Regions from separate parts of the Homo sapiens genome. Here all the other regions are reported to be linked to region 1. The links are microRNA targets in miRTarBase. Many come from high-throughput screens and were not tested one by one. Region 1 holds a microRNA gene; each other region holds the end of a gene's coding sequence.
The links. The annotated mature microRNA hsa-miR-3200-5p reads AAUCUGAGAAGGCGCACAAGGU and lies in region 1 at 3,684-3,705, shown strand. An mRNA with a match to its seed (bases 2 to 7 or 8) in the 3' UTR can be bound and repressed. Matches are read on the target gene's strand: a 7mer-m8 pairs with bases 2 to 8, a 7mer-A1 pairs with bases 2 to 7 and ends in A, and an 8mer does both.

Region 2: the mRNA of MFAP3 is a reported target of hsa-miR-3200-5p. Seed matches in the 3' UTR shown: 7mer-A1 at 3,765-3,771, 7mer-m8 at 2,648-2,654 and 7mer-A1 at 2,640-2,646.
Region 3: miRTarBase lists ZNF45 as a target of hsa-miR-3200-5p. Seed matches in the 3' UTR shown: 7mer-m8 at 4,444-4,450.

What each region holds. Positions count from the first base shown.
Region 1 is chr22:30,727,886-30,732,885 of GRCh38, forward strand. MIR3200 (microRNA 3200) reads left to right here and starts at 3,672; the gene lies at 3,672-3,756. The region is part of intron 1 of OSBP2 (oxysterol binding protein 2); the gene reads left to right.
Region 2 is chr5:154,053,336-154,058,609 of GRCh38, reverse strand. It overlaps MFAP3 (microfibril associated protein 3), which reads right to left. Exons shown (of 3, transcript NM_005927.5): 3 at 1,160-5,274. The coding sequence ends at 4,897. Among named protein-coding and RNA genes, the nearest start is that of MFAP3, 17 kb to the right of the region's middle.
Region 3 is chr19:43,908,922-43,914,195 of GRCh38, forward strand. It overlaps ZNF45 (zinc finger protein 45), which reads right to left. Exons shown (of 10, transcript NM_003425.4): 10 at 3,703-5,274. The coding sequence ends at 4,466. The region is part of intron 1 of ZNF45-AS1 (ZNF45 antisense RNA 1); the gene reads left to right. Among named protein-coding and RNA genes, the nearest start is that of ZNF45-AS1, 9.7 kb to the left of the region's middle.

The sequences.
Region 1 (5,000 bases):
CACAAGGTCAAGAGATCAAGACCATCCTGGCCAACATGGTGAAACCCTGTCTCTACTAAAAATACAAAAATTAGCTGGGTGTGGTGGTGCGTGTCTGTAGTCCTAGCTACTCGGGAGGCTGAGGCAGGAAAATTGCTTGAACCCGGGAGGTGAGGTTGCCATGAGCCGAGATCACACCACTGCACTTCAACCTGGTGACAGAGAGAGACTGTCTCAAAGAAAAATAAAGGGCCGGGCACGGTGGCTCATGCCTGTAATCCCAGCACTTTGGGAGGCTGAGGCGGGCGGATCACGAGGTCAGGAGATAGAGACCATCCTGGCTAACACAGTGAAACCCCATCTCTACTAAAAATACAAAAAATTAGCCAGATGTGGTGGTGGGTGCCTGTGGTCCCAGCACTCGGGAGGCTGAGGTAGGAGAATGGCGTGAACCTGGGAGGTGGAGCTTGCAGTGAGCCAAGATCGCGCCACTGCACTCCAGCCTGGGCAACAGAGCAAGACTCCGTCTCAAAAAAAAAAAAAAAATACAAAAATTAGCTGGGTGCAGTAGTGCACGGCTGTTTTTGCTCAACATTATACTTGTGAGATTTTTTCCAGGTTTTTTTGTTTGTTCATTTTTTGTTTTTGTAGAGACAGGGTCTAGCTGTGTTACCTAGGCTAGAGTACAGTGGTACAATCATAGCTTACTGTAGCCTCAAACTCCTGGGCTCAAAGGATCCTTCTGCCTTAGACTCCCAAGTAGCTGGGTCTACAGGCACATGTCAACATGCCTGGCTAACTTTTTCTTATTTTTATAGAGACAGGTTTTGCTTTGTTACCCAGGCTGGTCTCGAACATCTAACTTCAAGCAATCCTCCTGCCATGGTCTCCCAAAGTGTTGGGATTATAGGTGTGAGCCACTGCCTCTTCCAGGTTCTTATATGTAACTAACTCATTTGTTTTAATTGCTGTATTATATTCCCCCATTTGGATGAACCACAAAATGGATAAACCACCATTTGTCTGTCCATTCTAGTGTGTATGGACCTGCAAGTTGTTTTCAGATTTTGGCTTTTAGGAATAATGTTGTGAACATTTTGGTACCTGCCTTCTGGTAAGCATATGTACACATTACTAATGCCGAAATCCACAGGAGTAAAATTGCTTAATCATGAGACACATATGCATTCACTGATAACTGACGAGGTTGAGTGCTTTTTCATATGTTTATCAGCCATTTGGGTATCTTCCTTTGTGAAGTGCCTACTCAAGTTTTTTACCCATTTTAAATTGGTTCATTTCCTAGTATAAAGGTTCCCCAAAAAATTAAAAATAGAACTACCATATGATCCAGGAATCCTACTTTTGGACATTTATCCAAAAGAACTGAAATTAGGATCTCAAAGATACTAGCACTGCCATGTTCATTGCAGCATTATTCACAGTACCCACCTAAATGTCCATCGATGGATGGATGGATCTAAAATTATTGGCTGGGCACGGTGGCTCACGCCTGTAAACCCAGCACTTTGGGAGGCCAAGGTGGGAGGATCACCTGGGGTCAGGAGCTTCTGACCAGCCTGGCCATCGTAATGAAACCCCGTCTCTACTAAAAATACAAACATTAGCTGGGCATATTGGTGGGTGCCTATAATCCCAGTTACTTGGGAGGCTGAGGCAGGAGAATCGTTTGAACCCAGGAGGCAGAGATTGCTGTGAGCCAAGATTGTGCCATTGCACTCCAGCCTGGGTGACAGAGAGAGATTCTATCTCAAAATATATATATATATGTGTGTGTATATATGTGTGTGTATATATGTATACACAACAGGGAGATAGCCTTAAAAAGGTAGGAAATCAGCTGGTCATGGTGGCTAATGCCTGTAATCCCAGTACTTTGAGAGGCCGAGGCAGGTGGATCACAAGGTCAGGAGTTTGAGACCAGCCTGGCACACATAGTGAAACCCTGTCTCTACTAAAAATACAAAAATTAGCCAGGCTCTCGTGGACTTCAGCTCTTGTGGACTTCAACACGTTGATTATGGGTTTCTAGCCTCCAGAAGTGTGAGATAATAAATTTCTGGGTTTTTTTGTTTTTTGGGGTTTTTTTTTGAGATGGAGTCTCCCTCTGTCACCCAGGCTGGAGTGCAGTGGCACAATCTCGCTCGGCTCACTGCAACCTCTGCCTCCCAGGTTCAAGCGATTCTCGTGTCTCAGCCTTCCAAGTAGCTGGGACTACAGGCGCATGCCACCATGCCTGACTAATTTTTGTATTTTTAGTAGAGACGGGATTTCACCATGTTTCCCAGGCTAGTCTCAAACTCCTGACTTCAAGTGATTTGACGACCTCGGCCTCCCGAAGTCCTGGGATTACAGGCGCGAGCCACCGCACCCAGCCTGGAGTTTGCTTTTAAAGCCAATTTTTATAAAGTATAAAAGTATAACATACATGCAGAAAAACTGGTCAATTACGAGGATGTAGCTAGTGAATTTTCATGGAGTGAGCACCTCCCTTATTTTGAATTTATTTCCCCCCACTTATTGTTAACAAACAGTGGCTTGTCATTTACAGGCCTGTGTCCTTCCCAAGCTAGACCATTGAGGCCAGAAAGATGTGTCGTATTTATTTTTGTATCTACTCCCTCCCCAGTTTCTAGCACAGTTCCTTTATATAGTAGCCCACAGGAAGTGCTTGCTGAATTAGAATGCAGAAGGTTGGATGGGAATTTCACAGTGAATCAGGGTCACCTTGAGCTTGCATTGAATGGAAGTTCCATATAAGACTAAGTACTTTGCTCCAGAGTGGTAGCTTTTGGTCTTTCTGTGCATCTGGATTCAGATTCGCTGCCCTGTCTCTCTCTCTCTCTCTCTCTCTCTCTCTCTCTCTCTCTCTCTCTCTCTCTCTCTCTCTATATATATATATATATATATATATATATATATAATTTTTTTTTTTTTTCCCATGGACATTTTTGGGGAAGGGCTTCTGGAAAACATAGCCCAAGGCAGGGATTAAAGAGCTAATGCTGGCCGGGCGCGGTGCCTCACGCCTGTAATCCCAGCACTTTGGGTGGCCGAGGCAGGTGGATCACGAGGTCAGGAGATCGAGACCATCCTGACTAACACTGTGAAACCCTGTCTTTACTAAAGATGCAAAAAATTAGCCAGGCGTGGTGGCGGGCGCCTATAGTCCCAGCTACTCGGGAGGCTGAGGGAGGAGAATCGCTTGAACCCAGGAGGTGGAGGTTGCAGTGAGCCGAGATCGCGCCACTGCACTCCAGCCTGGGCGGCAGAGTGAGACTCCATCTCAAATAAATAAATAAATAAATGAAAAATAAAGAGCTGACACTTTGGGAGGTGCAATCCCAGGGCAGTGAAGGAGCAATGGCAAGTGGCAGAGGAGAGATCAAAGTGACCACCCAGCTCATTCCCTTGCTGGATGAGACTTCACAGCGAGCTACAGAGACACGGTGGGTCGCTCAGCAAGCATGCTTGCCTGGCACATGGACTTTTCCAGAACTTACACAAGAAGAAAATACACCTCAGAGCCATCCGTGGAGGGAAGAGTGGGGGGAGATTCATCTGACCTGTTCTTTTCATATCCTATTTTCCACGGTGGCATTTCATACAAGCCCAGAAGTGGAGGTACGGCGTGACCTGGATGAGGCATCATCGAGAGAGACAAAGAAGGAGGTGGTCGAGGGAATCTGAGAAGGCGCACAAGGTTTGTGTCCAATACAGTCCACACCTTGCGCTACTCAGGTCTGCTCGTGCCCTCCCATGATATCAGCTCTCCTACTTCAATGTGGGAATCTCCGTTTTCCTTGGAGAACAAAAACATCCTCATTCCTTCCCTGAGCAGGAAGGTACAAATCCCATCAGTGACAGAAGCCATTTCCTGGTGCTGGCCCACTGGGGTTACCAGGAAGAATAAAGCAAGAAGGTTGTGAAACAAGGTCATCTGCTGCTGCTGTGGCCGGTCCTGGTGTGCTCATTGTTACTCATCATTTCCCTCCTGCACTACCCACCCTAGACCCTCTCCACTCTCCGCCAGCACTCTGGCTGGTCTGTGATGTTTGCGCTGAGTGGTCTGCATGTGTTGTTGGCCTTGCTCATTATCAGCCGTTACCAATCATGGAAATGTTAAGAGATACCGGTGCTAGGCACAGTGGCTCATGCCTGTAATCCCAGCACTTTGGGAGGCCAAGGTGGAAAGATCACCTGAGGTCAGGGGTTCAAGACCAGCCTCACTAACATGGTGAAACCCCATCTCTACTAAAAATACAAAAATTAGCTGGGCGTGGTGACGGGTGCCTATAGTCCCAGCTACTCGGGAGGCTGAGACAGGAGAATCACTTGAACCTGGGAGGCGGAGGTTGCAGAAAGCCGAGATAGCGCCATTGCACTCCAGCCTGGGCAACAAGAGTGAAACTCTGTCTCAAAAAATAAATAAATAAATAAAAATAAGAGATATCCCAAGGAGTCCTCTGGGTTTTATTCCAGACATTCTCCTCCCATTTCCAAATGGGCCACTCACCTAATTCCTCATGGCAATTAGGATCAGTGACCCCTGGCGGTAGAGTCACTCCCCTGGCAGTAGAGTCACTCCCCTGGCAGTAGAGTCACTCCCCTCTTTGTTGGTCACTGGCATGAGGAGCCGTAGGTGGCCAAGTGGTTGTGGCAGTGTCCAGATCAGTGGAATCTTTGTTTCACATTCCTCCCTTACCCCAGGACTAGATCCTCTAACCCAGCTGATCCCAAGTGTGTGAGGATGGGAAGCACACACCTTGCAAAGGGCAACCATGCGTGATGGTGAGCAGGGCCACTCCTGGACCTGTCTGCTGTAGCTGTGGGGGACATGGCACCAGATATCAGTTGTCAGCTCAAGGCATCCTGGAGGACAGAGGCTCAAACCTGAGGGGTATTTCTCCCTCGGTGTCCCCGCTAAGCCAGTAGGCCATTCCATTGTTTTGTCAGGCTCGCTGCCCCCTAGTGCAGCTGGGTTCCTGTGATTCCAGTGA
Region 2 (5,274 bases), not on the chromosome of region 1:
ATGCAATTCTCAGAGGTGTGGAGGAATTTTTAGTTGACCACAAATGCAAATATAGTCATCAGTTGGACAAGGCTACTAACAAAGCTGACGCCGGCTCATGACTAGCCCCTTACAGTGTGGTAGATCAGAGCTATCAGTGTTTGCTTATCGGTTGCTATATTTAATCCTTGTGTTAATTCTGTGAGGTAGGCATTATCAATTCTATTTTACTGAAGCCGAGAAAGGCTGAAGCCCTTGTCCATGGTTACAAGGCTAGGGGTGAAATCAGGATTTAAAGTCCAGCAATCTTTTGCCATAGGGATATAAAGGCTAGATTTTCATTCTAAGGAGTCTGTGGCATTTAAGTAATGAGTCACACCTCCCATCTGTTGCCTTTGCGTTCTCCTAACACCTTGTGCTTTTCCATGCCTGTTAACCATCACCACTCTTCACCCTGATGGGACTGCAGACTTTTGCTTCTACCAGAGCTAAACCTCCTGCCCGCCAAATCTCACCATAAACTACACACTATAATCACAAGCTCTTTAAAAATGTACCAAATCTTCTCATCTCTTTTTCTCAAGCTCTTGCCTTTGCCAAAAATGCTTTACTTCAGAAGAGTAAACTGCTGTATTTGGGCCCAGGGAGGATAGTCTGGTATCTGCAGGCCCGTTGTGGGCAGGATACCCATCTCAGTGTAGCTCATAGCACTGAAAACATACACAGTGCTTAGGTGTAAATATTTGTAAAGTTAAAGTGGATTCCAGCCACACTAGAATCCAAGTTGAATTCAAATTTACTCCTATGCTGGGGGCTGTGGCTCATGATTGTAATCCCAGCATTTCGGGAGGTCCAGGCAGGAGGATTACTTGAGATCAGGAGATAGAAACCAGTCTGGGCAACATAACGAGACCCATCTCTACACACACACACACACATAAAATTAGCCACGTGCGTTAGCGTGCACCTATAATCCTAGCTACTCAGGAGGCTGAGGCAGAACTGCTGAGCCCAGGTTGAGACTGCAGTGAGCCATGATCATGCCATCATACTCTGGCCTGGGCGACAGAGTGAGACTACCCTCTCCCCAAAAAATTACCCATTTAAAATCATTAACGTCAAGTTCCATCAAACATACAAATTTCGTCAAACATACAAATGAAACATACACTATAGAAAATTTCAAATAGACTATATACTCCATTGAACGTTTAATAAATTATATTCAAGTATGACTTTCTTTAAAAAAGAGACAAAATTATAATGCAAGTATTTATTAAAATGCTGACAATTTAAACATCCTCTGAATTATATGAAATACTTATTTACTTTTGTGAAATGCGTTAGTGAAAATCTAGGAGTTTCTATGTAAGGCTGAGCATTTTCAACATTCCTGGCCTAGATGAGAAAAGAATGCATTCTCTTACTGGTACTCAGGAAATATTTATACAATACACTTGGGTTCTACTTGCTGGTGTGTGGAGACTAGGCTAGCACCCATGACTGGCTGGGCTCTAGAAAACAAGCATGCAGTGCTCCTGTGCCATCTGGGACCCAAGAGACAAAAGTCTGATCTAGGGTGAAGCTACATGCAGAGGGTGAAGAGGACTATACCAACAGCCTCACTTGTCTGGAGGAGCAAAAGGAAAGCCGTGCACAGATATTGCTTTGACCTTAAAATATTTGTTAAGTGAGGCAAGAAAGAAGCCAGGAGTCTTCTCACAACCGTTCCAGGTCAGCAATTTCTAAGATATTTCTATCAAGGTAATTGGTAGAAAATATAAATGCGTGCTGGCCCTGACTCAAGAATTAAACCATCGTAACATATACATACACAATTTGGAGGACAGGCAGTTATCAAACAGTCTATAAACTCAAGTGGGGCATCAGCTCAATTAATACCTGTCTATCTGGCTTCAGCTGGTAAGGAATCATAAAGATGTTCAAATTTTGATTTTTGGTGAATGTATTTCACAAAGCTACCATTTCATAAGGACAATAAGGTTCACTATATCACAATACACGACAAAATTTACAAATGAGATGACAGCTATTTTAAATACATTTTGTAAAGGCATTTTCCACTAACTATAAAATCCAGTGAGACAAAAAGATAATTACACTATAGTTACCATCAAGACTTTTAGACTGTAGTTGAAGTTCAAAAGGTTGATTTAAAAAAAAGATAACATGAGGCTTAATTATATATGAAGAGTATTTGATTAGATACAGAAAACATTAGTAAGTGTGGTTTTCTTCCTCTTGAAAACTAGCTTTACGAAGTAATACCAACTCCAATTAAATTTTGACCTACTTTAATTCCTCATCAATGGCACCATAAGCTGGTACACTCAAAGTAAACCAGTTACTTTGGCCACCAAATTAGGCCACCTCTGTTTCTAAAATAACTAGGATACAACGGAGTAGCATGCATTTAGTTACTATACAGTATCGTGCAAACTTACAGACTTTAAAAACATTTCCTCCATTTTTCCAAAGTTCTGTTTCTTAGGACTTTGATTTTAAACATGTCTACCTTAGGGTTCTAAATAATAATGTCTCCTATGAGAACATGTGGGGTAAAACCATTCTCTAATTTGACAAGCTATATTCTAAAAGATTACTGCAAACCTGCTATGTTAGGACAGGGTTGAAAGTACTATCTGAAATCTGAGGGATGTTTAGAGGACTGACCCCCAGACAAGGGATTTAAAATGTTTTTTGGCCAGGCACAGTGGCTCATGCCTGTAATCTCAACACTTTGGGAGGTAAGGCAGGAGGATCATTTGAAGCCACAAGTACAAGGTCAGCCTGGGCAACAAAGTGAGACCCCCATCTCTACAAAAAATAAAAAAAAATTAGCCAGGAAAGGTGGTGCACACCTGTAGTCCTAGCTGCTTGGGAGGCTGAAGCAGGACGATCGCTTGACCCCAGGAGTTGGAGGCTGCAGTGAGCTATGATCTTGCCACTGCACTCCAGTCTCAGTGGACAGAAAAAAAATTTAATTTTTCCAGAGAAAAGGGAAGGGAAAAAGTGTTCCATAATCTAGGATATGTTCAAGAGCCTTTGCTCTTATAGTCAAATATATAAAAACAATTTTCCTTAAAGAAATACCAGTCTATGAGCCAAGGCAAGCTTTGGCTAAATGATTGGTTAGCTTTTATTTGGCTCTAGAGGTTTCCATGGAAACAGCCTGAGAGACAGAAAAGGCAGCATTATCATCTTTATCCATGATGCCATCTGATAAAACTGCACATTGATTCATTCATGCTATTCAGAGCAGATGTATTACTTCTGATAAGCCTGGACAAAGGGAGGCATGAGTTTTATCCCGTCACGCTTTGAATTTCCTGTCTTCCCCTGTTTGAAACCTTAAATTAAAATCCTGATAAAACCTCCTCTGAACATTTCCCTCAGGAGCCTCTAGCTGAAGTAATGCTTCAATAATCAGAAGTCATATGAAGAAACGTGAAGCCCCAAATGGAGCTCCACTGCCAAGTTCTTAAAATTATATGGCACCACGCTTCCTGTAGCTGAAGAAATTGTTCTGAAGAGTATTTACAATTCCATTATATCAGATCTCAGCCAGGCAAGAAATGTCATCATAAGTGTTTATTATATACAGTTGAAGCAGGTGGCATCATCCATCATTTTTCTTCCTCTTGATGTCTAGATCAGTTGTGTGTGTATTTTAATATAGTAACACACCCTCACAATTATCTAATCTTATTTCAGGTTAGTGCTTCTTGGAAAGGCTACAAAAGCAGCCATAGCTCAGAATTATGTATCTGAAGTAAACAAAAATAAAAACCTCAACAACAAAATATTAACCAAACAAACAAGATAAAGACGCATGCAACCTATAGCACCATACCTAAGACCACAAAGGGCAGGAGGGTTGACAGAGGTCTTAAGAGGAATCCAGTTTTGGGTTTTCTCCTAGGATGAGATCCCAAATATAGAACCTATTTGTAGAGTCCAATACTTTTAAAAAGGGAAAGCCTGAGAAATTCTGTTAACAGAAATATGAAAATCCATGATTTTCCAGAAGACAGATGATTTGACACTGTTCTTATTCTAAAAGCATCAAAGACGTTATACCTTAGAAATAAACTGCTCACTTTGGAAGATCAGTTAGGCAATCCCTGCCAACCTCAATGAACTAAAATGATATCTCAGTAAGTTAAAAATATGATACACCCCCACCAAGGACCAATTTACTCATGGAAAGTAGTTTACAGAGCAGTTAGCTCTCTGACATCTGTATAACCCTACAGACATGTGCTACATTGAAAAGATTCAATCTTGCACATATCATTATATGCTCCACATGGCAAAACATCTGAAAAACACTCAGATGTTTTTCAAAAACCTCTGTGCATTATGACATTGGTGTGGAAATTTAGATCTCAGCTTAATCCTTTCCAAAAGAAGCGAGTAAAAGTCCCGGGAAAGGTTTACTTAGAGATGAGTGAAGATTCTGGTAATTTAAAGGTGATGGGTTAAGAAGCTATAGAGCTAGAAACAACTTCAGATCTCACCTAATCCCTCATCTTATTGACGGAAAAACTGAAGTCCCAAGATAAGTATCAGATCCAACCAATGGAAGAACTGTGACCAGAAGAGAAACCATGGGACTCTTAGTTCAGTGCTTTTCCCCATCATGTTTATCTGGGGCTCCTTTAAATCTTAGCATGCATAATTTAATAAAGCTCTAAGGAAAATGACTGAAAAGTATCAGAGAGGAAAAATGCTGCCTTCTAATGAAGACTTTGGCAATTCACGTTCTGATGTGCTTAATATTAACAAACGGAAAACCCCAGTCATCTTTTGGCAAAAATGTTACTTCTTCTAAGAAACAGGTTCCTTTTCTGAGAGCGAGCTGATTTTGTAGGTACTGGGTTACAGCATTGTAGGTTACAGCTGACAGTTTTCATATGCCCCATCTTTGTAGTTACAGTTAGATTCTGCAGATCCTATATCATCAGGTGGACTGAAATGACTGCTGCCTTGAGACTCTGTATCAATACTTTTGGTTTCTGACTGAAGGTGGACAGAAACCTGAACTGCTATTTCCTGGCCTTGTTCATTCAGAGAGCCATCATCTGAATCTCCTCCTGGTGAATTACTCCGTCCCATCTCTGGGTTAATGACATAGATGCCACCTTGAGCATTCAAGGCAGGTCTCTCTTTAATTCTTTCACCCAGGTCATCAGGGTCGTCCACTCGCACAGCCTCAAACATCTCCTCAACAAAGGCTCGACAGTTTAGAATAAGAGGTGGAAGAGGGACACT
Region 3 (5,274 bases), not on the chromosome of region 1:
CATTCTATTGGCTCCTCATGTGATGCCCTTTTGGTGTAAGCCAATGCCCTACAAACTAGCCAACTTACACCCATTGGTGCCACACCACTTAATTTCATCCTTTGGGTGAAATGACCCCTACACAAAAGCCTTTAAAACTATACTTCCCTTCATGCTTAACAGTTGGGACCTGGACATGATAACTACCCCTCTGTGGTCTCCACAGTGACCTCCACAACCACATCAGCGCCAGTCCCATTGTCCAACAATCCATGCTTCACTCTGCACTATTCCTTCATCATGACACCACATCCTACTTTCTTCAACTTGCCAGATAATACATGTGAAACAGTAACAGAACATGTCATCCAAGAGATAAAACTCCAACAATGCTGGGCCTGCCAGCAGGCGTCCCAACCTGGGTAACCACTCGTACAACTGATTTCCACACTCTTGGAGGTATGTGATATCCATACTACTAACCAGTCGCCATCCTCTCTGGTCACCCTCCAGCTCCTTTACTTCCCCAGGCACCCTCAACCTCATCAGGTTCTTCCTCTGAATTTTTCCTTCACAGTCCCACCTTTCCTGCCCTCTGTCAACGATTGATATTATATAAAGCCATTGAAAGTACAAGGGCCTCACACGTATGCACTGGTGAATGCCCTTCCCATAAAAGGGGATACCAGGCCACCTTTTTGTATATTATAAATTGGGCCTCATCACAATCTTTGGTATAACAGGCATAAGTCTAGATCTTTTCAGTTCTGTAGCAGACTTCATTCTTAGAGCTGCCAGCCAAACAACGTCACAATTCCTGGCAGACCATATGTACCAAACAGCCCAAGATTTAGAAGCCCTTAATGAGATAAAGCTCTGTAGCTGTCATGGTAGTTGATAAAATACTGCATTAGACTAACTAGTGGCATCTCAAGGTGGCCCTCTGAAGGGAACCTCTGGCTGTGTGAAGGTCAGTAAAAACAGGAAAGCTCTCCAGAATCGTTCAGTAGATAACAAACCAAAACAGTCAACGAAGTTACTAAGTTACTAAAATGTGGCAAGAGTTTCTGAATCCCTATTTCTTCTCCTGACTGCTTCCTTCTGCCTGGATTAACATTATCTGGCACCACATTATCTTTCAGGGAGCTATTATAATTGCTGGCCTAATTTTATTGGGTCAACTTTGCATATTTGGCCTCTCTCAAATGCAAGTTTATTTATAGGAAACCTAGGAGTTTGCTGTGCTAACCCAAACATCAGGGGTGAATTGTGAAGACTGGAGGAAACTTGGTGTTTGACTTAGTGCAAGCCACCTATAAGCATCTCTTGCCTATGTCCAGTCTCCCTCACAATCCTGATGAGGTTCACTTACTGCTCCACAAGTGCATATGCCCTCCACCACCTCTTTTAAACTGTGTGCTGGCAGGACATCCCCTTTTATAAACTGCCTGAACATTGACTATTCTGTTTTGGATCTTTTCTTGGACAGCCCTCCCACCCCGTAATCATCTTTCTTTGATCATTCCAAAGGACTACCGTCAGGAGTTTGACATACAAACCTAACCTTGGAAGGAGTTTCGACATTCAAACCTAACCTTGGAAGGAGTTTCCCCACATCATAGTAGAGGTGCTGTAATAGGCATATAGATTGGGAGGGAAAAACATTTTTTTTTTTTTTTGCAGATGACAAGATTGTCTACACAGAAAATCCCAAGCAATCAATAGAACAGCTACTTAAACCAATACTAAGTTTAGCAAGATCATAGGACACAAGGTCAACATAAAACAATCAACTATATTGAAAAAGAACAATTGGAAATTGAAATTTGAAAAACAGTACTAATTTAGAACCCTAAAAAAGGAATATGTAGGTATAAATCTAATAAAGTGTGTGCAGAATCTATATGTTAAAACTACAAATTACTGATGTAATAAGGGAGTCCTAAATAGGCAGATACTGTGTGTATGGTTTAGAACATTCTCAGTATTGCTAAAATGTCAGTTGTCCCCAAACTCATCTATATATTCATTGCAATCTCAATAAAAATCCCAGCAAATTATTTTTACAGATGACAAAGCTGATTCTGGAAATTATGGCAAGACAAATTTGATAGCCAAAATAAAATAATGAGTTGGAAGACTCACAGTATCTGGTTTCAAGACATTATATACAGATACAAAAGTCAAGATGTGCAATATTTGGCAAAATGATAGACACATAAATCAATGAAACTGCACTGAGGCCAGAAAAAGACCCATACATGTATGGTTAATGGATTCACAAAGGTGCCATGGCAATACTGAAAGAATTGGATTCTCATATGCAAATAGTGGACCTCCCTTATATAAAGATTCACATCTTATATAAATACTAACTCAAATATATCATAGACCTAAATATAAAGCCTGAAAACATAAAATTTGTGATAAAAAAGTGGGAGAAAATCTTTGTGACCTTGGATTAGGCAGAGTTCTTATATTTGAAACCAAAAGCACAATCCATCAAAGACAAAAAAGGAACTTCATTAAAAAAAATTTCTTGTGTGAAAAATACTGTTAATGGAATAAAAACACAAGCCACATAATGGTATACAATATTTGCAAAACACATAACTGACAAAGATATCTATCCAGAACATATAAAGAACTCTCAAAAATCAATAAGAAACAATCCAGGTTTTAAAAAAATGGACAAAAGATTTGAACATAGTTCACAAAAGAAAATAGGCAAATGGATAGCAAACGAGCAGTGGAGATGCTCAATGGCCATTAGGGAAGTGTAAATTAAAACCAAAATGAAATCCCGCTATAACCCTTTGAAATCCTAACAACAAAATAAAAATGAAACCAAACCCTGACATACCAATTGTCAGTGAAGTTAAGGAACTGGGACTTTCATACACTGGTGGTGGGAATGTAAAATGGTACAGTTATTTTAGAAAAGTCTGTCAGTTTTTCATAGATAAGTATACTGTTACCATACAACCCAGCAATTCCACTCCTAATATTTACTAAGACAATGTGGACACACAAAACTGTTTGCAAATGTTGACAGCAGCTTTCTTCATAATCACTGAAAACTGAAAACCCAAGTATCCCACCAGTGATAAATGGATAAACAAACTGTGGAACATCCATATGACAGACTACTACTCAGCAATAAAAGAAATGACTTCTGTACTGATATATGCAACAAGACAGATGAGTCTCAGAAGCATTAAGTGAAAGGTGCGACTCCAAAGGAAACATACTCTAGAATTCCATTTATATGACATTCTGGAAATGATATAAACTATACAGACAGAAAATGAGTCAGTTGACAAGGGCTGGTGGTGGGGAGAGGAGCTGACTAAACAGAACAAGCAAGTTTCAGGGCAGGGGGTACTAGAACTATAGACTATCTTGATTGTGATGGTGGTGTTCACATAACAGCACTTGCCAAAATGCATGATAGAGTCAGTTTCACTGTATATAAATTATTCCCTAATTAAAAAAAGAATGTTAGCTTATATGATTTTCATGGATGCCTTTTATCTCATTGAAGAATTTTTTCATCATGAGTGGATGCTAAATTTTGTCAAATGTTTTCTCTGAATCTACTGAGATGATCATACATTTGATCATAAGAATCCAGATATAAGAGTACATACTAAATCCATAGGAAGCTCAGGAACAGACCTAATTAATTTATGGTATAGAAATCATAATACTTGGCACTGGAGGTGGGATTGACTGGAAATGGGCACAAGAAAACTTTTTGGTTTAATAGACATATTGTATACATTGATCTTGGTGATGATTACATTTGTCAAAATTCAGAAAGCCATGAACTTGAGACTTGTGCATGTTACTGCATGCAGATTACACCTCAATAAAGTACTGTTAACATACAAAACTTCTAGTTGCTAGCCAGAAACTGATTTCTGAACCCACTAACAAGCTGCAACCTTCAGTTTGATAAACACTTGTCCACGAGATCTGCAAAAATGGGAAAATCAGGCCATATGACTAACTTATATATCCTCCAAGCCTTGCAGAATTCTTCTGAGTACAATTTTAGAGAAACTTCTAGAGATAAATAAAAATGTCAAATATTACTGAATTTCAAATATGACAGTAATTTCAAATACTACTGAAAAATTACAACGTATTAGGCACTGAAAAGGCAGAGTAGATTTGGCAGTCAACAAAGTCCCTGCCCTCTTGGATCTTATATTCTAGTGGAACAGAATTCAGCATTTCTATCTTAGTACTTCTGATTTACTCCAGATCAGACTCATCCTTCCTGATCCTCTTGTCTGCATGTATCAGCTAATGGTCAATGTTCTGAATGCAGTCCATATGTCTCCACTCTTGTGAGGCTTCTCTGCTGTGTGGTCTCCCAATCACTTGGCTGAACTACTGACTCTATAAAACAAATGTTTTGTCTATGATAGCTCTGATTATTAAAATATTTCAGCACCCATCTGAGATAGTAAAACATATTTTATCGAGTTTTCCTGTGTGAATCCTCTGATGAAGGAAAGTCCTTGTCACCCTCATCATCAGCATGGACTCGCTGATGAATGATAAGACTTGAGCTCCAACTGAAGCCCTTCCCACACTCCTCACATTTGTATGGTTTTTCTCCGGTGTGAACTCTTTGATGGGCTTGAAGGTATGAGCTCCAGCTGAAGACTTTCCCACATTCCTCACATTTGTATGGTCTCTCTCCTGTGTGGACCCTCTGGTGGGCTTGAAGGTAGGATCTCTGTCTGAAGCGCTTACCACACACATCACATCGGTATGGTTTTTCTCCTGTGTGGACTCCACGATGTGCCAGAAAATTGGAGGCCCGACAGAAGCCCTTCCCACACTCCTCACATTGATAGGGTTTCTCTCCAGTGTGGCACCTCTGATGGGCTTGAAGCTGTGAACCTACACTGAAGCCCTTCCCACACTCTGCACACTGATATGGTTTCTCTCCAGTGTGAACTCTCTGATGCACCTGAAGGCTGGAGAACTGACTGAAGGCCTTACCACACCTCTCGCATTTATAGGGTTTCTCTCCTGTGTGGATTCTACAGTGTACATTAAGATCTGAGCTCCGACTGAAGCCCTTCCCACATGTACCACATTTGTAGGGTTTCTCTCCAGTGTGGCCTCTTTGATGGGCCAGAAGATTTGAGGCCTGGCTGAAGCCCTTGCCACACTCCTCACATTTATAGGGTTTTTCCCCTGTATGGACTCTAAAATGAATGTTAAAATCTGAGCTACGACTGAAGCCCTTACCACATGCATCACACTGATACGGTT